6 separate regions of the Homo sapiens genome follow, and regions 2, 3, 4, 5 and 6 are each linked to region 1. The links come from fine-mapping of genetic effects on gene expression. A gene starts in region 1. Each other region holds a variant in brackets. All regions are shown on one strand. Distances are between the middles of the regions.

Region 1 (5,121 bases):
CTAGTGCTGCGTGACTGGCAAGCCGCTTAGCCTCTCTGAGCCTCAGCTTTCTTCTCTGTAAAATGGTGGCCATAACCTCCAGCTAATGAAATAGATGAGATAATGCACATAATGCCCACCCCTCCACACCATCATGGACACCGTGTACTTCATCACATGCATGGAACGAGTGATGAGTGACAGTTGCACCCAGGTCCACATTTTTTTGTTCCAGGCCCTTCTCCAGAAAGCTGAACATCGAATGTAGCTGGTTCTTCATTAAGGATCGCCTGGCATGGGCTCTTGAGACCTGTTCTGCAGACCTTTATTCTGTCTGCTGCTCCAAGGAGCTCTGTGACATGACCAATACATACATAGATATAGAGGATACATAGACAGGGCCCTTGCCAGCACAAGGTCTAGGGAAAGAGCAATGCTGGAGGTGTGGCAAGGTCTGTAGTGCACAGAGAAGGGAGCTGTCCTGCCCAGGGGCATTAGGAGAACCAGCCTTCACAGCCGAGGGGTGACTGAGCTGGGCATGGGAAGAGAAGTGGAGCTTGGCAAGCGAGAGGGGGAGAAAGGACTTTCCCAGCAGACGGACCCTGAGGCATGAAAGGGCACCGGGTTCCTAAAAAGGAAGGAAGTGTTTGAGGCAGGAGCCCAGGGGTGCCTGTGGCTGCTTTGTTGTTTCCCAGAGGGCAGGTGTGGAAGGCAGGCAGGAGGCAAAGCCAGGAAGATGGTGGGAGCGGAATCCTGGGTAACCAGGCTGCTCAGGGGAAGGTTGGACTTTATGCTGGGAATGTGGGAAGCCAGTGGAGCGTTTCAGGTCAAGGAGGTCACCATTGATTTGGGGGAAAAAAACAGTGTGTGTAGGAAAGCTGTCATGGAGGAGGGGAGACCGGGGTGGAAGATGGGGAGCTGGGATGCAGGAGGGGGAGGTTAGGGTAGAGGAGAGGTAAGTTAGGATGGAGGAGGAGAAGGCTGGGGAGGAGGAGGAGGATGGGGTAGAGGAAGGGGAAGACAGGGTGGAGGAAGAGGACCTGGGGTGGAGGAGGGAAAGGTGGGGTGGAGGGGGGAGAGCTGGGGTGGAGGAGGGGAGCTGGAATGGAGGAGGGAGAGGTTAGGGTGGAGGAAGGGAGACTAAGGTGGAGGAGGGAGAGTTTGGGTGGAGGAGGGGATGCTGGGGTGGAGGAGGGGATGCTGGGGTGGAGGAGGGGTGGCTGGGGAGGAGGAGGGAAGCCTGGGGTGGAGGAGAGAAACTAGAGACCAAGACACTAGTCAGAAGACCAAGGTAAGGAGAGGAGAATCTACCAGAGAAGAGTCATGATGGAAAAGAATGCCAGAGATTCAATAAACAAACTGAATTTATCTCTTGACAATTACCCTCTGAGCCCCCAAGCCAGAGCTGTCCTGCCTGGGAGGAGACAGTCCTAGGATAAATCCTGGAAGATGATGTGTGGCTTTGAGATAGCCGACTTAGGCAGTTTCTTCTGCTTTTAGTAACTGGTATCTGCAATACAGGCTCTCAGGGTTCTTTCTGAGTGAGACAACATTCAGCCTGTCTGCTTTACAGATGATACCCACACCTCTGCTACCCGGAAGATGAGCACGAGCATCTTGAAACAGGTGGACCAAATGCGACCGTCTCGGGGTCCCCAGGACTGTCCAGGTTTTAGCATTGAAAGTCCTGGGCAAATCAGGACAGCGGTCACTGACTATACAAATTTGCTGAGCTCCAGGGGCTCAGGGAGAGCTCAGCTTGTCACAAAACATTCAACTAATTCTACTCAACAAGATAAGCCTAAGAAGATGGACACTACGCTGTGAAAAGTGGCTACGGGTGGGAGGAAGGACAAAGATGTGACCCGGGACCTAATCCTCTGTAGATCTCATCGGACAGTGATTATACCAGAAGCTCAGAACTAAATGAACCACTTTGTCCCCAAACACATCACCCCACAGGTGCATTCCACCTCCCACATGTCCATCCTGTGTGCACACCCTGTGCCCGGTCACTTTGTCTGGGAAAGCATTCGCAAGGGAAGCGAAAAGGTTGGGACTTCTGCCGCCAGCGCAGACAGCAGGAGATGCACAGATAGACACACTCAAATGAGGGCTCTCAGGGCATTGTAAATGGGGTGGCCCTTTATCCTACAAATCACCCCGTTTTCATGGTCTATGTGTACACACACACACACTTTAAAATAGTGCAGTTTGGGATCAGAAAAAAAAGGCAAAAATGGCAATGTCACATCTGGTCGTCTTACAACAATATCAGCAGGCTGTCTCAAATCTGCCACAGCCTGAACTGAACCTGCCTCTCCCGAGTAACAGGTTGTTTTCACCTCCCGCAGACCATCAGCGCTGGCTTCAGATTCTCCACTACAGGCAGGGCACACGAAAACCTAATTATTATAGCCATCAATATCGACACACACAGCAAAGAAGTCACTTAATAAAATCGAGCAGCACAAATCGACCCAAAGGGGTGCTCTCCACTCCTGCCCCTCTTGTCCTCGGACGCTTCGCAGATGCGGTCCCCCGCCCTCCTCCCAGGGTCCAGGTGAGGGGCCAGGGTTACCTTTTGGAGAAATGCCATCCTCGGCCTGTACTGCTGGCCTTGGTGTCGGATTGTCATCCTGGCCCCTGGATGGATTCACAGCCAGAGCACCAGTGGGAGACAAGAGGAGAAGCCCCCCAAGTTCGAAAGGCAGCCTGGCTCGCCCCAGCCCTGGGCGTCGACGGGGAGGCGGCTGGGCGGGGAGGGCGCGGGCCGGGCCCCCCTGACTCTCACTAGGCGCCGCTGACTTGGAAAGCAGCTGGAATCCGCGCCAGCCAATCCGCGAGCGGCGCCGCGGGCTCATTAGCATGCGCTGCGCGGGCGCCCACCTGCCGCCAGGGGGCGCTATCCGGCCCCCGCCGGGACCCCGCGGAGCAGCAGGTGAGACCCGCAGGGCAGGGCCCCGGGAGGAGAAGGAGGAGGAGGACCTGGCGGGAGGAGGAGGAGGACCTAGCGGGAGGAGGAGGAGGACCTGTCGAGAGCAGCGAGCCTTTTAACTTGGGGCGGAGTTATGCACAGAAGTGACACAAAGAGCCCTCACTAATACAGCGCGGTGGAAAATACGGACTTTCCCATCCCAGCTCTGCCACTAACCAGCCGGCAGCCTTGGGCAAGTTCCTTACAATCTCTAAGAATCAATGTCCTTCACTCAAAAGTAAAAATTGAAAAATGGGATCATAATATCGACCAGAAAAGGTTGCTATACCATTTTAATGAGGAGATGTGTAACACAGTGCTTGGCCCTCAATAAATGCTTAGAAAAAAAAATTAGAGGTGGCGATTTAATGACCCAATAGCAGAGGAATTGCTAAGATGTGGGTTTAAAAAGAGAGAGCAAAGAAGTGAAGAAGGAAGAGAGGAAGGTTGTAGTCCTCACCGGGCTAGCTGTCTGGATGAAGCGAATTATATTTTACTTCTCTGATTCTTAGTGTTTCGGTTAGTTGGTTGTTGGGTTTGTTGTTGTTTAACTTTTTTTTTGAGACAGGGTCTTGCTCTGTCACCCAGGCTGGAGTGCAGTGGCGTAATCATGGCTCATTGCAGCTACAACCTCCCAGGCTCAAACAATCCTCCCACCTCAGCCTCCCCAGTAGCTGGGGCTACAGGCACGTGCCACCACACCCCGCTAATTTTTACAAAAATTGTTTGTGGAGAGGGAGTTTCACAAACTCCTGGGCTCAATCGATCTACCCACCTCGGCCTCCCAAAGTGCTGGAATTACAGGAGTGAGCCACTGCAGCTGGCTGGTTTGCTTGTTTTAATAGACTTTATTTCTTAGAGCAGTTTTAGGTTCACAGCACAATTGAGCGGAAGGTATAGGGACACGTCATATATCCCCTCTCCCCACGCACGCACAGCGTCCCCCATGATCAACATCCTCCACTGGAGTGGCCCATTTGTTACAATTGATGAACCTACCTTGACAGCTCATTATGTTAGCGTTTTCATCTTGAGAAAAATGCAAGGATGAAGCCTCTAAGTTATTATCAAGAGCCTTTCTGCTTTGTTATATAAAGCACTTTCTCTTAAACATACTCGATGGTTATTGAGTGTAGCAGATAAAATGTTTAAGTTGGAAGAAAACAAGAAGGCCTTTACCTTAGGAAGGCACAGTCAACCAATGTCCCTTTAAAGCAGTGGTTCTTGGCTGGGTGTGATGGCTCACGCCTATAATTCCAGCACTTTGGGAGGCCCAAGCGGGTGAATCACTTGAAGTCAGGAGTTCAAGACCAGCCTGGCCAACATGGCAAAACCCTATCTCTATTAAAAATACAGAAATCAATCAGCATGGTGGAGCAACCTGTAATCCCAGCTACTCAGGAGGCTGAGGCACAAGAATCACTTGAACCCAGAGGCTGCAGTGAGCCAAGACTGAGCCACTGCATTCCAGCCTGGGTGACAGAGTGAGACTCTGTCTCAAAAAAAAAAAAAAGCAGTGGTTCTTATCCATTCTCTCGGGTGATATTTACCTGTAAGAATCTGATGAAAGCTATGGACACTCAGGAACACACACACATGCACATGTACACAACACTGACTGAAGTTTGCAAACAATTTCAAGAGGTTCATGCTTGGGCCTCTCTTGTGCCTTTTCAGGAATCCCTGATTCAGAGCCTCCAATTTAGAGGACGCTGGACCCTGCAGAGATCCATCCAAGCAGAAGACCAGAGATCCTGCCAAGCAAATTGAACCACTGAGAAGTATGCTCCTGGTGTGAGCTGAGATCCAAAGAAAATGCTGGAATATCTTGATTTTTTTTCTCATGAAGCATCTTTTGAGCCTGGTGTGAGTTTAAATCCAAAGAAAATGCTGGAATATCTTGATTTTTTTTCTCATGAAGCATCTTTTGAGCCTAGTGTTATACAGAGCACATGCTGGGATCTGACCAAGATGAGCTATGAAGTTCCTTCCAGCTTCAACATCCCTTGTCTCTAGAAACCCTAAGCATCAAGAAGATAAGTGGCTTTCCTAAAATGAAGGATGAGAAAAATTATTCAGGAGCAAAGAGAGGCAAAAATAAAAGGCACTTTGCTCATTAATAGAATAGGAGAGGCCTCAGTGCCTGCCACTCTCCTCCCCACCCC
Region 2 (5,121 bases), 36 kb before region 1:
AAAGTCCAGGCTTGTCAGGCACGTCTGGGTGCCACTCCTGGTTCTGCCACTTCCCAGCTGTGCAGAAGATCTTGGAAAACACTCCTTGTCTTGGCACTCACTAACCTCTCTAAGAAACAGAGAAGAATCCTCCTACGTGGCAGGTTCTTGTGAAGATTTAACAAGATAGGGTGTGAAGCTCTCCACAGAAGGTAGCTATTGCTGAGCAAGGGGTTGTATTCATTTTAAGATTACATATGTAAAAGAATGGCCCAAAACTGGGACTGTAATCTCTGTTAGTTCCCTTTGCCAGCAGGTAACCCAGCTCTCCAGAAAATCTTACTTGGTCTCTCTCAACTCCTTGACTCTTTGAGACCAATAATTTGGGTCTTTCACTTCCCCTGATGCAGGTGTGATGCCAGGCATCCACCCATTGCTCAGCACATGTGACCAACCAGGTTGGCTACACTGAAGCAGAGAGTTGGGAAGCAACTGGGCTTTCTTGCCATCAAATTCAGCCTCATCCATGGGATCAGACTGGGTTTTAGCTCAGATGTAAGACTGCCAGATAAAATGTAGGAAGCCCAGTTAATTTAAGATAAATGGCAAATAATTTCTGTCCCAATATTTTGATGCTTATTATATATTTATACTAAATATACAAAATACATTTTACATAAAAATTATTTGTTGTTTATCTGAAATTCAAATTCAACCAAATTTCCTGTATTTTATTTGCTAAATCTAGCAACCTAGCTCACCGGGCTACCATGGAGGCAAATATGTGCAGACAAGACGACACAGGGAAGAGAAAGGAAAAGGCAATAGAAAGTGGGTGGGGAGGAGGACAGGGAAAGGGAATGGCCATCCTTACCCTAGTTGTTACAAGTGGATCTTGATCAGCAAATATCTATGGGGCACTTCTTATGTGCCGGACATTGTGCTGAGCCCTGGGGAGCCCATGGTGAGTGTGCCCCGAGACCACTGCTCCCCAGCAGGCATTACTGAGGCACTCCCAGTCTCAAGGGGGAGGTAGCCACTCAGCAATTAATCACACAAAGGATAAATTAGAGTTGAGACAGGTGTCTTGAAGGGATAACACCATGGGATCTAACCTCACATGGCAGGGGCTCAGCAGAGTCAGTGCCTTTGCCAAAAAGGGTTCTAGGAGTTGCCCCCTGAATCTGGTATGGAGAAATCCCCCTGCATAACTGAAGGCAGACTTCATACACACACTTTGGCACGTTCACACACTCTCACACTCACACTCACACACCCACACACTCTCATACATACATATGCACACTCACACATGCTCACATACATACATGCCCTGACACACTGGCACACTCACACACGCATGCTCACATACATGCACACACCTACACATACTCCCACATGTACATATGCACACTCACACACACTCACATACACACATGTCCTGACACACACACACACACACACATTAATATGGTTTGGTTCTGTGTTCCCACCCAAATATCATCTTGAACTGTAATCTCCATAATCCCCAGGGATTGAGGGAGAGACCTGGTGGGAGGTGACTGGATTATGGGGGTGGTGTCCCCCATGCTGTTCTCATGATAGTGAGTTCTCATGAGATCTGATGGTTTTATAAGTGTCTGACAGTTCCTCTTTCACATACTCGCTCTCTCTCGCCTGCCACCATGTCAGATGTGCCTTTTCCCGTTCCGCCATGATTGTAAGTTTCCTGAGACTTCCCCAGCCATGCAGAACTGTGAGTCAATTAAACCTCTTTCCTTTATAAATTACCCAGTCTTGCGTATTTCTTTATAACACTATGAGAATGAATACACAAAAACATGCTCACATACATGCACACACATATGCATGCTCACACATAACACATTCACACACTCACACACGTGCATACTGACACATATATGTTTACATGCATGCACAAACCTAGGCACACTCACATATACATATGCACACTCACACTCACATACATGCTCACTTACATGTACACATCTACACACTCTCACACATACATACATATTCTCACATACATGCACACCTTGACACGCCAACACACTGACATACATGCTCACACACATGCACACATGTACACACACTCGCACACATACATTCACACACTCACTCACATACATGCACACCCAGACATACTGACATGCACTCACACTCACACACAGCCTGTGCTCATGATGCCCTACAACCAGTGTCTGGCTGCTATTCCACAGGCGCTCACTGCCTCGGTGACTTCGGTGTGGTCATCTGCTCAAGTCTTGAATTCGTTATCTAGTTCTTTCCTTCCAATGTGCCCCAGGCTCTGATATAAATTTGGTTGCCCCAGTGCTCAACAGTGCACTGCATAACTGAGATAGAGTCCTCTATGCCCTCAGCTGCCCAGACCAGACGGCCTTAGACTCTCAGACCTGCAGCCACCCACTGGGCTTCATGATTCTGCCAGCCTGTCCAGTTCCAGCCCCAACCTGGCTCTCCATGCCTTCCCTACAGAACAGCCAGGCACAGTCCTCTGGCCACTGCTGCCTCGGCTCTTGCACCTCTGTGGGCAGCAGCCCTTAAGTCTCAGTTGTTCCCAATCAAGCTGTGGTCCTTTTCCAGTTCCCTGCCCTCGAAACTGGTGAGAGGGCTGCCTTTCTGCCTCTGCTGGTTTCAGAGACTCCCAAGCTCCTTTCATTCATCCATTTCTTCATTCATCAGGTAGTGTAAAGTCTTTGACCCACTATGATCATCACCAGAGTGCTGCTGACACAGTTTCTGGCACATAACAGGGTGTTCAGATGAAGTTAACCAGAACTGACTGTCAGCGCCCAGGAAATAAGGGCAGCCGATGCATCCTGCGGTGTGTGGCCCGCAGATAAGGAGGCAGCAGGCACTTTCTGCCCTGGTGCCTCATGCAGGAAGCCTTCAGAGACATGCAAGCTCCCCTCCT[C/T]CACCCTGAGGAACTGTGAACACCAGGGTATGACCCCGCCCCCCACAAACAACATCCCTTGGGTGTAAGCCAAAGAGGCAATTTGCTCAATGCATCATCATTCAGGTCAGGAAAGGAGCTCCTGTACTCGTGACAACTGCTCGTGAGGAGGCGATGTTCCCAGGAACCCACATACAGAGCAAGGCCAGCGTGGAGCTGACGGACACTTCTCGGTGGTACTCCACCGTGTCCCCCTGCCCCTCCTTCTCTCAGCTTCACTCTCTTCCCAAAAATATCAGACTCTTCTGGTGCATGGAACAGAAAACAAATACTAAGTAAAACACTAACTCGTTTTCTAAACAAAATAAGACAGGGGAAAGAAATAGAGATGAGGCCAGGCGCGGTGGCTCATGCCTGTAATCCCAGCACTTTGAAAGCCTGAGGCCGGCAGATCATGAGGTCAGGAGTTCGAGACCAGCCTGGCCAACACAGTGAAAACCCATCTCTACTAAAGATACAAAAAATTAGCCAGGCGAGGTGGCGCACACCTGTAATTCCAGCTACTCGGCAGGCTGAGGCAGGAGAATCGCTGGAACCCAGGAGGCGAAGGTTGCAGTGAGCTGAGATCACGCCATTGCACTCCAGCCTGGGCAATAGGGCAACACTCCATCTCAAAAAAAAAAGAAAGAAAGAAAGAAAGAAAAAAGAAATAGAGATGAGGTGAAACAGGGAGACAATTTTATGTTGCTGTGTTAGGAAAGTCAGCTCCTAGAGGATCTTGGCTTGAATGTCACTCTCCACGTCCTGTGTCCTGTGTTCCCTGACCCCCAACCGGACGCAGAGCCCCTGCCTCCTACCAGCTGCCATGGCATTCTGCTTGTTACTCATTCATTGGTTTAATCATTTTAGTCTTTGTCTCTCCACCAGACTGCAAGAAACTCCTTGAGGTCACGGGCAATGTCTGTCTTGGCTCATAATCCAAATATCCCCAATGCCTAGTAAGCACCCGGCATAGAGCAGATATTCACAAAATATATGTTAATTTTTTTTATTTTTTATTTTTGGACCATGGCACATGGAGCATTCCACCCACCCTGGTTTTATAATATAACATTATGTGTCAGGCCGCCACAGTGGCTCATGCCTGGAATCCTAGCACTTTGGGAGGCCAAGGTAGAGTCAGGAGTTCGAGACCAGCCTGGCCAACATGGTGAAACCGCCGTCTCTACTAAAAATACAAAAATTAGCCAGGTGTGGTGGCAGGCGCCTGTAATTCCAGCTACTCAGGAGGCTGATTCAGGAGAATTGCTTGAACCCAAGAGGCAGAGGTTGCAGTGAGCCAAGACCATGCCACTGCACCCCAGAGCGAGACTCTGTCTCAAAAACAAACAAAAAACAACAAACAAACAAAAAACACATTGTATGTCAGATCATTTTCCTAGATCAATGAATGGCCTTTGAAAATATTATTTGAATAGCTTCACAATGTTCCATCATGTTAATATACCTCAATTTATTTTGCCATTTTCCATTGTTGGACATTTAGCCTAACTTCGATGGGAAATGGAGGGCAGACATCTCTGGCAAGTGTCTGCATATGTGGTTGAAACAAGGGTCATTTAGCTTGATAAGCAGATAAGCACACCCACCGCCAGGAAGCAGCCTCAGACTACATCCTTGGGAGGCAGGAAGTCACAGATGGCACAGCAAAGATGCAGGGAAGGCCTCCACATGCCTGTCTAAGGGAGCACTTTCTCCCTTTGTTCATTTACAAAACTCACTGTTGTTTGCATCGTGCTCAGATCTGTACTTGGTTCCATTTGAGTAAAAAACAGGTGAGAAACATCGTTTTCCTTCATTACAGGATGCTGAATCACAGGTGTCCTTTGGGCTCTGGGTAGGAATTCAGGTCAGAGCCCTCAACTACCACCACCCACGTGGGGTCTTGGCCTTTGCCAGTGATGATCTCCCTGAAACACCATCTATCAGACATTTCTCCCTGCCTTTCTAAATCAATCACCCTCTCGCTGTGCCCCTTCTGCAATTAGGTCTTATCTCTGGGAGAGTGTCACTCACCTGTGCTCCAGCAATTTGGATTTTGAGCTCCTTGAGCTGAGAGAGGGACCACGGGTGGGGCCTCCTTGCACAGAAGCAGAATATCGGGCTTTACCATCAGAAAGATGTGGCTTCCTCTCCCAGAACTGAGC
Region 3 (5,121 bases), 30 kb before region 1:
ATGGTGAAACCCCATCTCTACTAAAAATGCCAAAATTAGCCGGACATGGTGGTGCATGCCTGTAATCCTAGCTACTCAGGAGGCTGAGGCAGTAGAATTGGTTGAACCTGGGAGGCAGAGGTTGCAGTGAGCCGAAATCGTGCCATTGCACTCCAGCCTGGGTGACAGAGCAAGGCTCCATCTCAGAAAAAAAAAAAAAAAAAAAAAAGAATGCAGAAGGCTTAGCACAGTGCCCAGCACACTGGGAGTTCTCAGTTCATGTCTACTGTGATGGTGACGGTGACAGTGACCACAGTGATGAAGACAATAAGGGTGGTGGAGGTGGTGGAGAAAGTGGGGGAAATAAGAGAGGTGGTAGAGGTCAGGGAGATAAAGGAGGTGAGGGAGTGGGAGGTGGGATGACGGTCATGGTGGTGGAGATGGGCTGGGGGGGAGGCAGTGGTCATAGAGACACATGGTCATATTTATGTGATTCAGCATCATCCTGTGAAGAGCCACTCAGCCACTAGCCTGGTGGGGGCTGAGAACTTACCCCAGAAGAACTGAGAAGAACCCGGATGATCAATTTTTCATGTTAATGCATAGCTAGTCTATGTCACTTTGCAAGGAATGTAGTCACATAGGCATTCGCACAGTGAGGAGTCTCTGCACATAATATAGAAGCCGTTCTTTACCTACCCTCAGGTATGGTGCCACTGGGCACCAAGGTGTCTTGCCAAATGTGGCATATCCGCCATGTCTCCTTATCCTCACCACAGAGTGCTTCTGGAACACACGAGCAATGTGAGGCTCCTTCTCATACAAAGAGTTTCTTCGCTACCAACCAGGAGGGGTGCTTATCTCTGGGACCCTGTGCTCTGTCACCCGGCCCCCAGATACCTGCGTCAGGCATCTGTAAACTGGTTTCCCTAGAGGAGAAACCCTGAAGCAAAGAAAAAATCAAACAAGCTGTTTGGGATCAACCTCAGCACCTTAACCTCAGCAACACAGCATCCAAACCCATGCCGCTACAGAGTGGAACACCTTAGGAGAATCTGTTTTCAGTATATAAAGAATATAAGCAAAACAGCCAAAATCGGATGGGCTTGAAACTCAAAAATCCATAAACTCTGACACCAGGCCTCACTCAGTTCTCCTTCTGCTTCTGAGAATTTCTGATACCTGGCAGGCAAGGAAGCTAAAGGAAGAGGAGGAAGAACATTTCTTTCTAACTCTTCGGTTTCCAGAATCTCATTCACATCTCCTACCTCCCATGACCCATAGGCAGCACAGGGAGCTGTACAGGAGGAAACTGAGGTAGCAGAGTTAATCCCAGTATGTAGCAGTCAGACCCCACTTCTGTGTGCTGGGGAATGAGGCTACCATTTCCCAGTGATGAGCTGGGGCAAGTTACACCAGCTCTGTACAGCTTGTCCCTCTGGGCCACTGAAGTCCCAAAGCCAGAGATTCAGTGTGCTCCAAGCAAGGAGAAGCTCAACACAGACGTATTCCTTCTCCTTCTCCCATCTCAGCTGCTGGGAACTGGATCTAGGAGAGGAAAAAGTGAGGGAGCTAGAGACACCAAGGAGAACTTTGGCCAAGCAGTTTCCATTCTCACGGGACTCTATTTTTCTGCATTGGCGCCTCCATTGGGGCCTACGTTCTAATTTTTTCTCCTTATATTCCTTTCCCAAGGTATGATATCCTAGCAAAAAAAAAAAAAAAAAAAAAAGTCCCAGCCCTCGTAAAAGACAAATTCATTCAGGTCCCTCCCTACCTAACACCAACAGATGGGCCATGAGCAGACCCCATCCAGGCAGAGAACTTCCTTTTCTGGCCAAGAGGCACTTGGATGCTAACCCAACACTGAGCAGCTCCTCCTGCTGATCCAATTCTCGCCCTAGAGAAAGAGGAGTTGGCAACAGGTATGGAGAGCACAGGATGGAGGTGGGAGGCACAGGAAGAGACAGAGGACACCAGGCAGGAGGATACTCACAGGGCATCGGTGCACCAGCCAGTATGCCTTCTCCTGGCAGTCCAGGGCATATCTGTCTGCTTTGTTCCTCTCCTTTCCAGCCCTGGAAAGCCAAAAGCCACGTGTAAGGCCAGGAAGACTTTGTGTCTTTTGATTAGTGATGCCCCTCATTCCTGATGACCTAGACCCCTCTCCCAACCTGCCCAAGTAATTCACATATACCGTAATAGTAATGAACACAGCAAGCACTGACATCTCACTTAAGTACTAGCACCCTTCTAACCACTTTGACACGTATTAACTCTTTTAATCCCACTTCATCCTCCCGGTGGCCTTTTCTTACTTCAAAGTTCAGGGCACTGAAATGAAGAGGGGGTGAATGCCCCACCAGCCCACCAGGGTCACACTGCTAGCAATTGGCAGAAGTGGCACTTGCACTTGGGAGTCTGGCCAGGGTCTAACTCCCCCGGACAGGACAGTGCTGCACTGAGATCATATTGCCGCCACCAGCCCTAAATCAAACCAACTCCACCAACTTCAACATT[A/G]GAGAGCAGCGCGCATGGGTGAACTTCCGGGTCGACATTTGACCTCCTGGCTTCTTAACTTTTCCCTGTTTGGGCAAACAACATAGTCAACGTCTGGTCAGGCAGGCAACCCCCTGTGGGATGGTGACAAGGAAGATGCTGGCCTGGGGAGTCCTCTCTCCTCCGTGCCTGTAACTTCTACTCTGGCACTGCAAAGAGTTCATGCCACGTCGGGGCTTTTTCTGAGCACAACTTATTGCTATAAAAGGCTATTTATGGCCCGGCGCAGTGGCTCATGCCTGTAATCACAGCACTTTGGGAGGCTGAGGTGGGCAGATCACTTGAGGTCAGGAGTTCAAGACCAGCCTGATCAACATGGTGAAACCCCGTCTCTACCAAAAATATAAAAATGTTCCGGGCATGGTGGCAAGCACTTGTAATCCCAGCTACTCAGGAGGCTGAGGCAGGAGAATCGTTTGAATCTGGGAGGCAGAGGTTGCAGTGAGCCGAGATCGCGCCACTGCACTCCAGCCTGGGCAACAAGAGCAAAACTCCGTCTCAAAAAAAAATAAATAAATAAAAAAGGGCTGTTTATTTTCCTTTTTATCTCTCAGTCTCTCTCCCTTTCCCACTCTGGATGGGAAATGACGCAGGGCCTTCTTCCTCCAGGGGCAAAGTAACACTAATGATCCCGCCGTGGGCCCCCTTCTGTACCATTTCCACGGAGACCCGCGCTCACACTTGTTAATGCTTGTTTTCCCAGGCAACGTGGGATGACGCACACGCCCTCTGCAAGACAGAGTCGGCGAATTCATCTCCCCGTTAACGTACTGTGAAAAACATCATAACACTCAGGGAGCCAGATGGGTGAACAGCGCCATTCCATTTGGGCGTTCCGTCAGCCTCCTCTGGAAATTAAATATAAACATTGTTTTCAAACTTCCCCCTGACAGCCTAACTGGATTTTCTACCACATTAACTAGCCCCTGACCTCAGGAGCATGGGCCACAACCAGCCTGAGGCATTGCAGTTTCCACAATGCTGGAGAGCCTGGTAAATAGAGTCACTCTCTGATTTACCCCACGGGTCCTTTCCGGCTTTGCTCTTCTGCTTTTCTGTAACAGATGTTATTAGAGGAGAGTCATGATAAATGGAATGCAAGAGAGTTAGTAACCTAGGAATTACTTTAGTTTGTGATTTTTTCAGCAACAGCATTTGCTTAATTTTTCATTCATTCATTCGTTCATTCATGTACTCATTGATCTTCCAGTATATTCCAAGCACTGGGAGTCTACTGGTGAACCAAACATAGTCCCTGCCCTTGAGTAGCTTTTGAGCTAAACATCACATACACAGTCAAAGAATCAATACAGAATTGCAAATTGCATTATTTGCCATAAGGAAACAGAGTACCATCATGCAGCATCAGGGATGGCCTCTGTGGTGATTTTTAAATATGTCTACAATTCTTTGACACTCTTTCCATTGACAGATGTGTCTATGTCTCCTCCCCTTGAAGCTAGATGGGATTTTGTGATGGTTTCTACCAACATGGGACGTCAGGCATGGCACTAATTTCTGAGGCCAGGCCATAAAAGGTGGGACAGCAGTCACCCTCCTTACTGGAATATGTGGTCTTGAAGTCCCCAAACACCTCTAAGCAATCTAACAACCCTCCCTGATGCCGCCATGCTGTGAGGTAGCTCAAGCTAGACCACACAGAGAGGCTACAAGAAGAGAGTAGGAAATGCCAGCCAGCCCCAGTTGCTCCAGGCCCCCAGCTCCAGCCATCTGACAGCAACCACTCAAGAGACTCTGAGTTAGAATTGATAGGCCAAGACCTTCCCAAATCCCTAACCTATAGAAATCAGGACACATAATAAAATAATTGTTGTTGTTTTGAGCCACTAAATTTAGGATGATCTGAGTGCAGTAACAGCTAATCAGAAAAGCCTCTTTGAGGAAGTAACATTGGAAGTGAATGTTCTCCCCGATAGCTAGAGAAGATGGATTGAGGTGATCTTATCTGTGTTTCAAACATGGGGAGAAATTGGGAGCAGAGAGGCCAGTTGGGAGGATGTTGCCATGGTTCAGGTGACGGTGAGTTTGGTTCAACCAGGGTAGGGGCAGTAGAGGTACTGATATGGGTGATACTGGAGGAAGAGGTTTGGAGAGTGAGGGAAAGACATATTTGAATATGGACAAGGTAAGTTTGAGGTTTGACAGCAACATGAGATCTTGAGTAGCTGTCTGGGTGCTGAGTGTGGAACTTGGAAGACAGGACTCAGCATAACAAAATGACTACTTTATGGGCCAACCTACATGGTCAACCACGTTTTGTGCTGAGACCCTAAATCTGAAATCAGAGGCAGCCTTTAAGCCATAAAATAAGTGGGAAAAAGCCATCTCAAATGGAGCAAGCCTTTTAGGAATCGCTCATTCCAAGGCACCTGGAAGAATGAAAGAGGGGAATGTCCCAGGACCTGGGCAGCACAGAGCTTTATCGCAGCTGAGTCCAAGGCCTTGGTGGTGGACCTGCAGGGATCACTGAGAACAGCTCCAAGCTTCAAGAGCACCCAGAGCGCCCAAGAAAGCAGATGTCAGGGTTCATAGTCCTGTGGGTTGCTGGGATAGTCCTGCTCA
Region 4 (5,121 bases), 26 kb after region 1:
ATGCAGCTAATGTAGGGACTAGAGAGTTATTTATAACCTTAAAAATGTGTATATTCGAAAAATGGACAGGGTGAAAGTCAATGATTTATTTTTTTAGTTTAAGAACAAAAAGAACAGTAAGTTATATCTAAGGAAAATAGAAGTAAATAATAAAGATTATAAATCAGTGAAATAGAAAACAAATCTGCCTGGCGCGGTGGCTCACGCCTATAATCCCAGCACTTTGGGACGCCGAGGCGGGCAGATCACGAGGTCAGGAGATCGAGACCATCCTGGCTAATGTGGTGAAACCCCGTCTCTACTAAAAATACAAAAAAATTAGCCGGGCGTAGTGGCGAGCGCCTATAGTCCCAGCTACTCAGGAGGCTGAGGCTGGAGAATGGCGTGAACCCGAGAGGTGGAGCTTGCGGTAAGCCAAGGTCGTGTCACTGCACTCCAGCCTGGGCGGCAGAGCGAGGCTCCGTCTCAAAAAAAAAAAAAAAGAAAGAAAGAAAAGAAATAGAAAACACATATACAATGGAGAAAAATCAACGAAATCAAAATTTGGTTATTTGAAAATATTATTTATATTGATAGACTCCAAACAATACTGATCAACAGAAACAAAAAAGACAAATTTTCAATATTAGAAAGGAATATCAATACAGATCCCACAAATATAACAAAGATAAGAGAATATTATTGTCTTTACACCAAAATATTGACAACTTGGATAAAATAGACAAACCCCCTGAAAAATACAACTTTCCAAAGCCCACATAAAAAAGTAAAATCTGAATAGCCAATATCTCATAAATAAATGGAATCTATTCAAGAACTTCTCACAAAGAATTCCAAGCCCCAGATGGCTTGCTTCATCAGTTAATTCTTCCAAATATTTAAAGAATAATACCATGGGCTGTGTGTGGTGGCTCACACCTATACACCCAGCACTTTGGGAGGCTGAGGTAGGAGAATCACTTGAGTCTAGGAGTTCAAGACCAGCCTGGACAATACAGTAAGGCACCGCCTCTACCAAAAATTTAAAAATTAGCAGGGCATGGCAGCGTGCACCTGTAGTCCCAGGTACTTAGGAGGCTTAGGTGGGAGGATTGCTTGAGCCCAGGAGTTCAAGGTTATAGTGAATGAGCTGTGATGGCATCACTGCTACTCCAGTCTGGGTGACAGAGTGAGAACCTGTCTCTAAAAAAAAAAGAATAATACCAATCTTGCATAAACTTGGACAAACTCTACCAAAGAATAGCAAAACAGAGTATAGTTCCCAACTCTTTTTATGTGGCCATAACCTTAATAGAAAAACTGGACTAGGATATTATAAGCAGAAAAAATTACAGACCAATGTCAATCATTGTGGTATGAGAAAAAATAAATATTTGGGTTTTGTCCCTGGTTCCTGGCACATGGCTCCCGAAACTCCTGAAATCTCCACAATGGCAAGAGTGTCTTTTGTATACTAATGAAATGACTAGTGGCTGGAGGCTTCTAGGTAGTTCAGGATGAAGAGGTCACCAGAAAGACCTAGACAATAGCTCTTATTCTGCATGCCAAGAAAAATAAACAACTAAAAAAAAAAAAAGGAGAACTAGGCATGATTAGAGGGTTGGAACTTTTAGCCCCACCCACTGACTTCTGGGGAGGGGAGAGGGACAAGGGGCTGGAGATTGAAGTAATCACCAGTGTTCAAAGATTCAATCAGTCATTGCTATGTAGGGCTCATGCCTATAATCCCAGCACTTTGGGAAGCCAAGGCAGGCGGATCACCTGAGGTCAGGAGTTCAAGACCAGCCTGGCCAACATGGTGAAACCCCGTCTCTACTAAAGATACAAAAATTAGCTGGGCATGGTGGTGTCCACCTGTAGTCCCAACTACTTGGGAGGCTGAGGCAGGAGAATTGCTTGAACCTGGGGGGTGGAGGTTGCAGTGAGCCGAGATGGTGCCACTGCACTCCAGCCTGGGCGACAGAGCGAGACTCCGTCTCAAAAAAAAAAAAAA[AAAAAAAAAAAAAAAAG/G]TCATGCCTATGTAATGAAACTTCCATTAAAACCTCTAAATGATGGGGTTCAGAGAGCTTCCAGGTTGGTGAACACATCAAGGTGCTGGGAGAGTGGTGTGCCTGGAGAGGGTAGGAAAGCTCTGTGCTCATTCTCCCTTGCCTTGCTCCATGCATCACTTCCATTTGGCTTTTCCTGAATTGTATCCTTTGTAATAAACCAGTAATATTAAGTTAAGCACTTTCTTGCTTTCCACTAATCATTCTAGCAAATTGTCAAGCCTGTGGGAGGTGGTCATAAGAACCCCCAATTTGTAACCAGTTGCCCAGAAGTATGGGTGGCCCAGGACTTGCAACTGGAGTCTGATTGGGACAGTCTTGTAGGGCTGAGGCCTTAAATCTGTGGAGGCTAATGCTAACTCTGGGTAGTGTCAGAATTAAATTGAATTGTAGGACACTCAGTTTGTGTTGGAGAATTGGTTGGTGTCAGGAGAGGAAAAAAATCCTCACTTGTGAATATAGATGCAAAATCCTAAATAAAATATTAGCATTTTTGCTAAGGAATTAGAAAAAATCAAGCATCCATCTAGGGTTTATTCCAGGAATACAAAAGTGATTTAATATTCTAAAATCAATCAAGGTAATTCATCACATTAGTAGGAAAAAATAAGATCATAAAATCATATTGATATATACATAAAAATGATGAGTTGATAGATACATAAAAATGGTGACTTCAGAAAATGTGGTTTCAAGAAGTAACATCAGATTCATTTTTCTTTCCTCCCTTGGAGTTCTGTCTGTCCAGTCTAGATTGATTTGTAGAAGAGAACTGCAGTCTGTTCCACGCCTAGCCTGAGCCATGGCCTGTACTGCCTGTTATGTTGTAAGACCCTCTGATTTCCAGGACCCTCTGGCTTTGGATTTTGGTCCCCATCTTTGGGTCTGCATGTTTTTTACTGATATTTCAACCTGCAAGACAAAAAAGAAGGAGGCCGGTAAACAGGTATTATTTAACATAATTATTGACATATGTAATATAATTACTATGTCGGACACTCTGGTAGGTTCTGGAGGGACAAATATGAACCCAAGTTCTGGAAGTCTAAGTAACTCATCGAAATTCCCACTGCTGGTAAATGACAGAGCTGATATGTGAACCAGTCAGTCTGGCTTTGGAATTCATACTCTTACTCATTCTGTCACTAACTCTACATGACCAACCATAATACTAGGCATTAAGTGTCAAATAGACATAAGTTACACAGGCTGTGAAAGCACAAAGAAAAGACATCAATTCTGGCTAGGGGTGGGTTGGTTCTGGAAGGCTTTTAAAGAAAGAGGATTTAAGCTGATACTTAAAGATTTGTAACTGGCAGAAAATGAGAATGTATTACTCAGGATAATTTAGATTATGCTGTGGTAACACAGATTTAACCCAACAAGGGTTTATCTCTCTTAAGAAAATGCTAAGTCAAGTTGGGCAGTGTCCAGGGCCCTCCCTTGATGTCTTGACTCAACTCTCTAGGCTGCTACCATTTATGGTTTCTCATTCCATTACATGTGCTCCATCACTGTGCAGGGGAAGAGAGAAAAACATGGAGAATTGGTACTCACCCTTCAAGACTTCAGCCTGAAAACCCACACAACACTTCTGCTCATGGCCCAGTAATTCTAACTCAGAGAACATGGGCTATTTGGCAAGAAGTTGTTGCTTCTGCCCCAGAGAAAAGGAGCATTCCAGGCTGAGGAACAAGCACGTGCAAAGGCATGAATGGGTAAAACTGCATGGCATGCCAAGGGAGAGCAAATAAATCCAGGACACAATAGGTCTTCGATGTCATTCATAGACAAATGGAAGCTCTCATGGAGAAGCAGCAGAGTTTGCCTTGTTTTGCAAAATTATAGATGGTTTTAGATGTGCAAAATTATAGATGCAAAAAGGAGGGTATGCAGTTGTAGCCATGCCCTTGGACTTCGCAGCCTCCATAATCGTGAGCCAAATAAGCTTCTTTTCTTTGTAAATTGCCCAGTCTCGGGTATTCTGTTAGAGCAACAGAAAATGGACTAAGACAAATAATCAAGAAATACTTCCTAGAGGAAGTGAACTTGGAAGGGAACCCATGGTACGGCCAAGTAGAGAAAAAGGAGGAGTAAACCTTTCTGTATCAGAGGAAATAATCATGCAGGAGAGAGCACAGTTCAGGCAGAGGCAATGAGGAAAAGTAAGAGAATATGGTCACTAGAAGCACTATAGATGAGTCTCTTGTACTTAGACACTGCAATCCTAATTGCACAGGAGCTCAAAAGGGACAGCAATCATAGGATGGTCCTGTGGTTTGAAGGTGACTCCCAAAAGTTTGTGTGTTTGAAACTTAGTTGATAATGTATACAATTTGGTGAAGGCAAGAGAATATGATTCCAAGATTTCCTACCTCTCTGCCAAGCCAATGGTGGTAGTCAGTATTTAAAACAGGAAACACAAAAGAAAGCAGCCTGTTTTGAAAGAGAAAAACTTGTTTGTGCCGTGCTCTGGAACATATACACAGAAATGTGTAGCAGCCAACTGGAAATAACAGCCTCAAGCTCTGGGGTGAGGAGAGGCATCCCAGGATGAAGGTACAACAGAAGCAAAGGAATGGAGACAGGAAATATCAGGGTATACAGGAGACCTACAGTAAGAATGAAGGTCATTCCTCACCCATTTACTCTGCCCTTGCCGCCCTCCTCAGAGTTATTTCCCGCTGCCTGCTACACATCTGCACCTGGAGGGCCCCTCAAACGCAATCAACTCTTTGGCTCCTATCAACCAAATCCAGAGCCATCCATCCATACTGCTCTGTCTTCATTGAACTGTTTCAATCTTGCAGTATCTATTTTTCTGCCATTAATCATAATTTTTTTTTTTTTTGAGACGGAGTCTTGCTCCGTCGCCCAGGCTGGAGTTCAGTGGCGCGATCTTGCTCATTGCAAGCTCCGCTTCCCAGGTTCACGCCATTCTCCTGCCTCAGCCTCCCAAGTAGCTGGGACTACAGGCACCCACCAACACGCCCGGCTAATTTTTTTGTATTGTATTTTCAGTAGAGACAGGGTTTCACCATGTCAGCCAGGATGGTCTCGATCTCCTGACCTC
Region 5 (5,121 bases), 83 kb before region 1:
AGGGTGCTTAGTACAAAGGCAGAACCTGGCCCCACCACAGCCCCACTGAAGGAGAATATCAGGGGGGTGCGACTGAAGGAAAGCATTTCTAGCTGACATCTGAGATTATTCTGCCCTGTAAGCTTAAGGGACTCTGCACTAAGCTTCTAACCCCTTCCCTTCTATAGGGAGGTGCAACTCTACTTAGGACACATTCTGCAAAGAATGTACAGCAGGGAAAGCTGGGCCTTGATTAGGGGCTTGGGAGACAACTGTTAGGTGGAAAAGGGTGGCTCGTAGATGTATCAAGTATCTACTACATGCTAGGTACTTTGCTTATCTATAACCACCCCATTTTAGAGAACAGAACATTGAGGCCCACAGGGGCTCATTACCCTTTACCAGCTCTCATGACTAGTCAGTGACTGTGGCATGTAGAATCACAGTGACTGTGGCATGTAGGATTCCCACCCCTGTCCTTGAGTGTACACGTGAACCATAAATGTGATGGGGTAGTCACTCCCAGTCAGGCTATGTGATGAGGCATAGCTGACTTTTAAAAAGGGGGAGTGTCTGGGTGAGCTCCAGCTGGTCACAGGAGCCCTTTCCATCTGAGTCTAGAGGCCAGAGGCAGAAGGCAGAGAGATCGGAAGCTTGGCAAGGATTCAACTGGGGAGAAGGTCTCCATGGCTGGCTTTGAAGATGGAGGGGGCACATCTCAAGGAATGCAGGTGGCCCCCAGCTGCTGAGAGCAGCTCCCAGCTGATGGCCAGCAAGAAGACAGTGACCTGAGTCTTAAACGAGGAACTGAATCCTGCCAGCAACCCAAATGAGCTTGGAAGCAGATTCTTCTTAGAAGCATCCAGATGAGAACCCCGTCAGCCTGGCTGACACCTTGAATGTGAGACCCTGAGCTGAGAACCCAGCTGCGCTGTCTAAGATTTGTGTCCTCCACAAAATGTATATGTTGAAGGCCTTCCCCTTGCAGGTGATAGTATTAGGAAGCGGGGTCTTTGGGAGGTGATTAGTCATGAGGGCAGAGCCCTTGTGAAAAGGATCAGTATCCTTATGAAATAGACCCCAGGGCACTAGGTTGGCCCTTCCACCGTGGGAAGACACAGTGAAGAGACTCCATCTATGAACCACAAAGTGGGACTCCACCAGACCCCGAATCTGTTGGGGCCTCCATCGTGGACATCCCAGCCTTCAGAACCGCGGGAAGTGTTTGTTGTTGATAAGTTCCCTAGTTTATGGAATTCCCTTACAGCCCCTTGAACAAGACATCAGCCAAATGTCTCCTGGAAAACTGAGCTCATACCTGGCTGGTGCTTGTGGTCATTGTTATGCAGCAATAGAAAACTGAAGCAGTGACTAAATGAGAACCTGAGGCCAGGTCTGTGTGACCCAAAGGGCCTTGCTTTCCTTGCTGATTCACATTGCCATCCAAAAATACCAAAACTAGGAACTCGGCTTTGTCAAGAGAGATACAGAATTAACTTCCATTCCACTTCCTCAGAATTTGTGATAAACTTCTATCATCCCACTATACAGATAAGACAACTGAGGTTCATGGATATGATGCAACTTGACAAAACTCAAAGTTTGTGACCAGATCAGCCTCTCTATATGCCCTCCCCCAACTCTGTGCCCTCCTCCCACCCTCCTACCTCTCTCGGTCCATCTCTGGCTCCACTCCTCCCCTAGCATCTTCTCTTTTCTGGGATGAATGACAGACAGGCGAGGAAGATGGCCACTTACCTGGCCTGAGATGGTCCTTTCTTCTGGGCAAATGACCATTAGCTTTACTGGTCCTGGACAATCTAAGCAGATGTCTTTTCCACCCGTTCCCACAATTCCCCACCTTGGTCCCTCCCATGGAGCCTGGGGCTCTGCTTGGAGACCCAGCCCCTCCAGCCCATGCCCCACCTACCATTGGTGTGAGGCAGCAAAGCAGTGGCATGCATGACACATGGCAAAGAAATGTGACACCACAGAGACACAGTGAAGGAGAGCTTAGCATTGTTTTGTTTCATGCTGCTGTTTTATTGTACAAGGGAACCAAGAGAAGGGAGTAAAGGAGCATGAAATGAAACAGGTATGTTAACATGAGAACACAATCACAGGCATTTTAATGAATGGCAAAG[C/A]AGGTAGTGCATAGAGATGAAATTCATTTTCTGTCCTCGGAATGTGGTTGAGAATTTGAAAGAGACCTTGGGGCCACCTGAACTCCCACTTCCTGGGAGCAGAAAGGTGAGCAGAGGGCCACATTTAGGTGCAGCATGCAGTGTGCAAAGTCCCCTCTTCCAGTGCCTTCCCACTCTCCCCTTCCCCACCGCCCCCAAGCAAATGTGCAAAGTTAGCCCCATGGGGAAAACTCTGCCATGGGTGAACACATGGCATGACCCCATACTGGTCATCCCATTTGACACAGTCTAGCACAAGACCTTCTCAGTTAGCAACGACCCTTACTTCAGCCATGAAACTCCAGACTACAGGATTGACCAGTCACTACACTGTTGCTGGTCAGTCCTCTCCTAGAAGCTGCAGACAGAGGACATGACATCAACTTCTCCCCCTCCTCCCCTCAAATATATCCTAACGTTCTCTGGAGAGCTGGAGGACCGCACTGCAAAATTCTCAAAGAACAGAGAAGATAGATGGTTTGAGATGACAATGTTTTAAATATCTCTCAGGAAATGCCTTAAATAAAGAATAATGATTTACTATATTGGACAACACCAACAGCTAGAAGAAAGCACAAGCTTACTCTAAGACTGAAGCTACTAGGTGATGATGGTGATGATGGTGTATTAATGGTGATGGTGATGGTGAGGATGGTGGTGATGATAATAATAATGATATGGTGATGATGGTGATGATGGTAGTGGTGGTGATGTTGATGGTGATGATGATAGTGATGATGATGATGATTGTGTATTAATGGTGATGGTGATGGTGAGGATGGCGGTGATGATAATAATAATGATATGGTGGTGATGGTGATGATGATAGTGATGATGATGATGGTGATGATGGTATGATGGTGATAGTGATGGTGATGGTGGTGATGGTGATAATGGTGATAGTGATGGCGATGAAGGTGGTGACAATGATGATGGTGGTGATGATGATGATAGCAGCTAGTGTTCGTTGAGGGCTTATAATAGGCCAAGAATTGTCTTAGGTCTTTACTCATATTTTGTCCCTGGCCCTTATATTTTTACTTAATATTCACAATGAAAGCAGCCTTTTCTCTAAAAGTCAAGTTGGAAAATGGAACTCTATAAAGGAAATCCTTGTACTTACAGAATAACTTATATCCTAGCACAAGCTATGCACCCCATGGATAGAGGGGTTTGTTAAGTTGTTTAAAATATAACATTAAGGAATTCAAAGGTGTCTAAGGACACGGCATAATAGAGATTTTCATAGTGATTTAAATATATCGTTAATATTGTCCAAATAAATGTTTATTTTTTATGCTATTTGGGATTTCAACGGGCCCTGTGGGACACATAGTTTAAACATTAGCAGGAGAAGCTGCCACCTGCTGGAACAATAGCAGCAGCCACAGATGCTTGCAAGCCCTCAGAACCTGCAGTCCCTTCACTACCAAACATGAGAATTTCCTGGTGGACTCCAGGGTTGGAAAGCAGAGCACTGGCATACACTGATGTTGGGGAGAGGGAGGTGCAAGGTGGAAAAGAGCTGATACCTGGAGTTGAGATCATGGTGAAGCCACACAAATGCACACAGCCCTGAGTCCCTAGGAGCTGCATAGAGCTTTCCAGGATGGATGGTCCCGGTTGGCCACTGGTCCTGATCACCAACGAACTGCCCTGCCTGGCCCTGCCCACCCCTCTGCTTTAGCCTCTGCTGATCTCCCCAAGTCTCCACTGCCTTCACCAGGCTAGCAGTCCTTGCCAACCCTTCCCAAAACATTATGTGGCTTCCCTATAATATCACACCATTTGGTTTAATTGTCTCTCCTGTTGAACAGCAAATGCCGCAAGGGTGTCTCTCTTGCTCACTGGTGATCCCAAGCACTTAGCAGGATGCTGGGCATGTAACAGGTGCTGAATATCTCTGTTGAATGTTGAGTGGTCATAACAGATAGAGGAAAACTGTTATCAGAGCCTGACCCCTCTATTCACAGAAGCTGGAACTCTGGATCCCAGCCTTGGCAGATTACAAGAAGCAAGAGAGTGAGCAAGAAAGAGAGAGTGAGAGAAGAGGACAGAAAGAAAGGGGGAGGAAAGAGAGAGAGAGCTATTTCTGAGCATCCACCCTAAGCCAGACACTCTCTACTATCAATAACATTCTAAGAGAAATGATAACTTCAGACAGGTTGAAGGTCAAAGCCACCCAGCTAAAATATCAAAACTATGTCTGCCTAACCCCAAAGTCCACATTCCTTCCCCTACCATTCAAGCCTGGCTTCAGAAAAAAAGCTGTTCTCATACCATCTAGCTTCAAGGATTAAAATTCCTGGAACCACAAGACAGAGATGTGTTCATTTAGCGATGTTTAAGGATCAACCCTTTACAAGTGCTGTTCTGACTGGAAGCTGATAGCAAGCGGGTTTCTTAAAGTTCTGCATCGAAAGTAGTCAATGACTGCTGGAAGACAACACCTCCCTCTTTCCCGTGGCCATCCCACAGCATTTCCCATTGACAAAGTTGCTGGGAATTCCAAAGTTTTCCTGAATGGCTGCTTGGCTGACCAAGGAGTATCATGGAATGTACATCTCTCTCTATGCCACCTTTGAACATACAGAAACTTCCATATAAGGAGAGGAGACACTTCTTCCCTCTCCTAGCTTGACAACCTTCTACTCAACTGTTTGGTTCAGCATCCATCATCACTGCCTCACAGTGATTGTCAAGCACTTGTTTGGTTCAACACTTCAGGGACTTCTCCTGCAGTCACATGGCCTTGCTTCTGTAGCCACACTGCCCTCCTCCTGCAATGCTCTCAGCAAATGCCTCAAATATTCCCTAATCATTAAAATTGATCTTACCTTAACTTAGCCTTCAGCTTCCTTCCCTTCCACTTCCAAATCTCTCTGAGTTGCAACATCAGAGAGTAAACTATTCCTCTCCAAAACCAATCTTGGCTTTGGTCTGATCCCCTCCAATTTTT
Region 6 (5,121 bases), 100 kb before region 1:
ACAACCAGATGTTGTGAGAGCTCACTCACTATCACAAGAACAGCAAGGGAAAAATCCACCACCATGATCCAATCACCTCCCATCAGGTCCCTCCCCTGACATTGGAAATTACAATCCAACATGAGATTTGGGTGGAGACACAGAGCCAGCCATAACAGTTCCTGAATAGGTGCCCAGATTTCCCTACAGCTTGAAATAGGCACTGCTCTTTCTTTGTCCCTGAACACTGACTCCTAGTCTTCCAAGGACACGATCATCCCAGAAAATACTTTATTTCAGCTCCTTACTGAAGTAGTTGTCTCCTTCATTCAGTGCCTTCTCATTTTATATGGGATCATATTTTAACATGTTATTTTTCATTTATCAAATGTAAGTGTTCTGTGATTATTTTCTTATGTTTCTGACCTTTTCTGCTACATGTTCATCAAAGGAACGAATGCTTTCTACACACTAGCCCAATACACACACACAGAGCCACATTCTGGGGCCAGCAAGACTCTCTCAAGGTTCCTCTTTGCTTCAACACTACCTTGGAGGAAATATTCATCAAGCATTCACCAGGTCCCAGCCACTGATCTGAGCTGTTTACATAAGTTAGCTGGTGATCCTCACACCCTGACCCCCAAGGAGGCTGTGTTATTCTGATGTCAAGTTTATGGATGAGAGAACTGAGGTTTGGAGAGCTTTAGTGAAATGCTCAAGGCCACTTGGCTAGGAAAGGGTAGAACCTGGATCTGACCGGAAGCAGTGTGACACCAGAGTGTGTACCCTCAGCTGTCAAGTTTTGCAGCCACTCCTAACACAGTGTATTGTAATTCTTAGTTTAAAAGTATGCTCCCCATCTAACCTATGCATTATTGAGATCAAGGCCTAATTTTATTCACGATAGCATACCAAATGCCTAGTGGACCCTCCATGAAACTTAGAGGAGTGCATAGATGGATGGCTATGGTGTGAGGGGAAGAAAAATGTTTCCCTCTACCAACTTAGGTTCAGTGGTTGGGGGCCTGCAAATTAACTGACAAAAAAACAGGTTGGGAAAAGACAAAGTTTATTTGCATACCTAAGAGTTCCCAAAAATCTATCTCTCTGAATAGTGAGAGGTAAGGATTTATACATCATCTTAATAAGAAGGGGGTTTAAGACTTTCCAGGAGAGCAAATGATGGGGAGCTAATGAGAAACAAGCAGAAAGCATGGAAAGTTTTGATTTTTTTTGTTTATATAATTTCTTATCCAAGTGTGAGTGGTCCATCTCCTTTCTGTCTGTAAACCTCCTGGAGAGAGTATTTATGGTAGCTATATTTTCAGGAGACTTTTATTAAGTCATCAAAAAAAAAAAAGAAAAAAGTTTAGATAAGGTATTTTGGGTCTTTTTTTCCCTGCTTTGGCTGCTGTTTGTTCAGATGTTTTCGGCTTTAGATAACCCTCATATGACATTGGTGGGTCCAAGGGGATCTTATGAGATAGACGGACAGATAGATGGGTGGATGGGTGGAGGAGTGGATGGAGGGGTGGATGGATGAATGGATGGATGGATGAATGGATAAATGGATGGATGGATAAATGAATGGATGGATGGACGGATGGATGGATAGAGGAATTGACAGATGGATGGAATGATGAGGGTAGATGGTGTGGACACATTTGTGTGTTTAGGATGGAAATCAAAGAGGCACTTCACAGCAGGGCCAAAGCCAGAGCCAGCCTCATAAAGCATCCCCAAAGAAGTGTGAATCTCCCTGTCCCCAAGTTACAGCTTGTTGTGGTGCCTACAATTCCAAGTTTGGAGATGCATTTTCTTAAGCCAGAGGTCCCTGTTAAAATGGAGCTACAATGGAGAAGGAAATACTATAATTTGATAACTTAGAGCAGAGTGTGTATATATAAATAAAATATACATATGAATTTATATGAAATATATTCATTTAAGTATATGAAATATATGTGTATAACAATATATGACACATATGCAGCAGCTATGTTGTTGTGGAAAAGAAAGTCCTTGGTGGACACCCAGCTCTAACAATAGGACAACTGAGCTAACATGAACTCCCTCCTATCAGAAAACTTGGAATTAATACTGAATGAAGAGAACAACTACTTTGGCCCCAGGGAAGAGTGACAGGAAATGGCCTGTGGTCCAAAGGCTTGGAAAACCAGACCTAAGACCCCTCCATCAGGTGAAATTCCTGAAGGGCTGCCCAGGGCAGGAAAAGGGGACTCGAGAAAAGAGACACTTCTCCCTAAGGTATAACAAACATGCAGTAGGAGCTGCCAAAAGAGAGAGAGCAAAGAAAATGGAGAGGAGGAGGAAGCATTATCCAGCGACAATAAATGAGAATTTTCGGAGTAGAAACAAGATATGAGTCCTCAGATGGAAGAAGCATCACCCCCAGAAGGATAAACACAAACACCTCTGTACCTAGACATGCTATAGGGAAACTGCAGAACACTCAAGACAAAGACCAGTACTTAGAGGCAAAATAGAGAAGAAAATCTATTAAGCAACTATCAGGGAATCAGCCCCCA[A/G]TAGTCACGTAGGTTCTTTTCTATTTTCCCTAAGCGTCGGCCGGGTTGAGAAATAAAGGGACAGAGTACAAAAGAGAGAAATTTTAAAGCTGGGCGTCCAGGGGAGACATCACATGTCAGTAGATTCCTGATGCCCCACAAGCCACAAAACCAGCAAGTTTTTATTAGTGATTTTCAAAGGGGAGGGAGTGTACTAATAGGGTGTGGGTCACAGAGATCACGTGCTTCACAAGGTAATAGAATATCACAAGGCAAATGGAGGCAGTGCGAGATCACAGGACCACAGGACCAGGAGGAAATTAAAATTGTTAATGAAGTTTTGGGCACACATTGTCATAGGTAACATCTCATCAGGAGACAGGGTTTGAGAGCAGACAACCGGTCTGACCAAAAATTTATTAGGCAGGAATTTCCTCGTCCTAATAAGCCTGGGAGTGCTATGGGAGACTGGGGCTTATTTCATCCCTACAGCTTGACCATAAAAGACGGCCACACCCAAGGGGGCCATTTTAGAGGCCCACCCTCAGGGACGCATTCTCTTTCTCAGGGATGTTTCTTGCTGAGAAAAAGAATTCAGCGATATTTCTCCCATTTGCTTTTGAAAGAAGAGAAATATGGCTCTGTTCCACCCAGCTCACCAGCGGTCAGAGTTTAAGGTTATCTCTCTTGTTCCCTGAACATTGCTGTTATCCGGTTCTGTTTTCAAGGTGCCCAGGTTTCACATTGTTCAAACACACATGCTCTACAATTTGTGCAGTTAATACAATCATCACAGGGTCCTGAGGTGACATACATCCTCCTCAGCTTACAAGATGACAGGATTAAGAGATTAAAGTAAAGACAGGCATAGGAAATCACAAGGGTATTGATTGGGGAAGTGATAAGTGTCCATGAAATCTTCCCAATTTATGTTCAGAGATTACAGTAAAGACAGGCATAAGAAATTATAAAAGTACTAATTTGGGGATCTAATAAATGTCCATGAAATCTTCACAATTTATGTTCTTCCACCATGGCTTCAGCCGGTCCCTCCATTTGGGGTTCCTGGCTTCCCACAACAAGCAACAGTAATTGAACCTCTCATCAGCAACAAGACAGGACAAAAGATGATGAAATACTATCTGAATTCCCAAGGAGAAATTACTCTCAACCTATCTTTTTCAATTCACCTAAATGATTATTTAATAGTAAATGATTAAAATAATAATAGGGTAAAATAGTGTTGAGGATAAAATAAAGACATTTTTAAAACAAAAAAATAGACTTTTCTCTCAAGGCCATCAGTGAGAGAATCACTAAAGGATGCACTTCAGTACAAAGAAAACTGGACCAGGAAAAAGAAGTGGTATCCAAAGAGGAGTGATGAGCACAAATTTGGGTAAACTTGTAGCTGATGCTAAAAAAGAATTGACTATAATACACAATAATAACACCGCTAATGAGTTATTTTGTTTAAAAACATAATGAAATTAATAATAATATGGCACAAAGTTTAACAGACTTTGACCTTGAGCTAAATCCAGCCAGTAGCTTATTTTTGTAGTCTTCTGATAAGAATGACTTTAGTTTTGTTTATTGTGTTAAGATATTCATACCATCAAATTTATGATTTTAACCATCTTTAAGTGTACAGTTCAGTGGTATTAAGTACATTGTTGTGCAACCATCACCACCATCCGTTTCCAAAATTGTTTTTGTCTTCCTGAACTGAAACTGTGTGCCCATTAAACACTGATTCCCCAGTCCCACCATCCCTATCCCAGCCCCTGGCAACTACCATTCTACTTTCTGTCTCTGTGAATTTGACTACTCTAGGTATCTTATATAAGTAGAATTGTTACCAGAAAGGGGTCCTGATCCAGACCCCAAAAGAGGGTTCTTGGATCTTGAGCAAGAAAGAATTCAGGGCAAGTCCACAGAGGAAAGTGAAAGCAAGTTTATTAAGAAAGCAAAAGAATAAGGAATGGCTACTCCATAGGCAGAGCAGCAGCTTGGGCTGCTGGACTAGGATACTTATAGTTATTTCTTGATTTATATGCTAAAGAGGGGTTTAATTATTTATGAGTTCTCTGGGAAAGGCATGGGCAGTTCCCGGAACTGAGGGTTCCTCCCCCTTTTAGGCCATATAGGGTAACTTCCTGACAATGCCATGGCATTTGTAAACTGTCATGGCACTGGTGGGAGTGTCTTTTAGCATACTAATGCATTATAATTACCACATAATGAGCAGTGAAGGTGACCAGAGGTCACTTTCGTCACCATCTTGGTTTTGGTAGGATTTGGCTGGCTTCTTTACAGCAGGCTGTTTTATCAGCAAGGTCTTTATGACTTGTATCTTGTGCTGATCTCCTATCTCATCCTGTGACTAAGAATGCCTTCACCTCATGGGTGCAGCCCAGTATGTCTCAGACATATTTTACCCAGCCTCTATTCAAGATGGAGTTGCTCGAGATTGAACACCTCCAACAGAATCATACAGTATTTGTCCTTTTATTACTGGCTTATTTCACTTAGCATAACATCTTCAAGGTTCTTCCATGTTGTGGCATGTGTCAGAATATCCTTCCTTTTTAGGTTGAACAATATTCCT

What was found. PIP is the estimated chance that this variant, and not a neighbour inherited with it, causes the effect.
Region 2: its variant is fine-mapped to the expression of RGS9 in whole blood (TOPMed, PIP above 0.99).
Region 3: its variant is fine-mapped to the expression of RGS9 in tibial nerve (GTEx, PIP above 0.99).
Region 4: its variant is fine-mapped to the expression of RGS9 in skeletal muscle (FUSION, PIP 0.95).
Region 5: its variant is fine-mapped to the expression of RGS9 in whole blood (TOPMed, PIP above 0.99).
Region 6: its variant is fine-mapped to the expression of RGS9 in whole blood (INTERVAL, PIP 0.94).

The regions. Positions count from the first base shown.
Region 1 is chr17:65,135,037-65,140,157 of GRCh38, reverse strand. RGS9 (regulator of G protein signaling 9) reads right to left here and starts at 2,788. Exons shown (of 19, transcript NM_003835.4): 1 at 2,561-2,788. The coding sequence starts at 2,617. RefSeq lists a silencer at 2,599-3,098.
Region 2 is chr17:65,171,407-65,176,527 of GRCh38, reverse strand. The region is part of intron 8 of RGS9 (regulator of G protein signaling 9); the gene reads right to left. It also overlaps the pseudogene ZNF848P. Among named protein-coding and RNA genes, the nearest start is that of RGS9, 37 kb to the right of the region's middle. RefSeq lists an enhancer at 2,785-3,578. The variant C/T (reference allele first, on the strand shown) is at 2,936.
Region 3 is chr17:65,165,136-65,170,256 of GRCh38, reverse strand. RGS9 (regulator of G protein signaling 9) reads right to left here. Exons shown (of 19, transcript NM_003835.4): 8 at 1,976-2,057. Among named protein-coding and RNA genes, the nearest start is that of RGS9, 30 kb to the right of the region's middle. RefSeq lists an enhancer at 2,109-5,113. The variant A/G (reference allele first, on the strand shown) is at 2,500.
Region 4 is chr17:65,108,555-65,113,675 of GRCh38, reverse strand. LOC100507002 (a long non-coding RNA gene) reads right to left here. Exons shown (of 3, transcript NR_110801.1): 3 at 2,581-2,960. Among named protein-coding and RNA genes, the nearest start is that of RGS9, 26 kb to the left of the region's middle. The variant AAAAAAAAAAAAAAAAG/G (reference allele first, on the strand shown) is at 1,994.
Region 5 is chr17:65,217,768-65,222,888 of GRCh38, reverse strand. The region is part of intron 17 of RGS9 (regulator of G protein signaling 9); the gene reads right to left. Among named protein-coding and RNA genes, the nearest start is that of RGS9, 83 kb to the right of the region's middle. The variant C/A (reference allele first, on the strand shown) is at 2,124.
Region 6 is chr17:65,235,229-65,240,349 of GRCh38, reverse strand. No RefSeq gene overlaps it. Among named protein-coding and RNA genes, the nearest start is that of RGS9, 100 kb to the right of the region's middle. The variant A/G (reference allele first, on the strand shown) is at 2,532.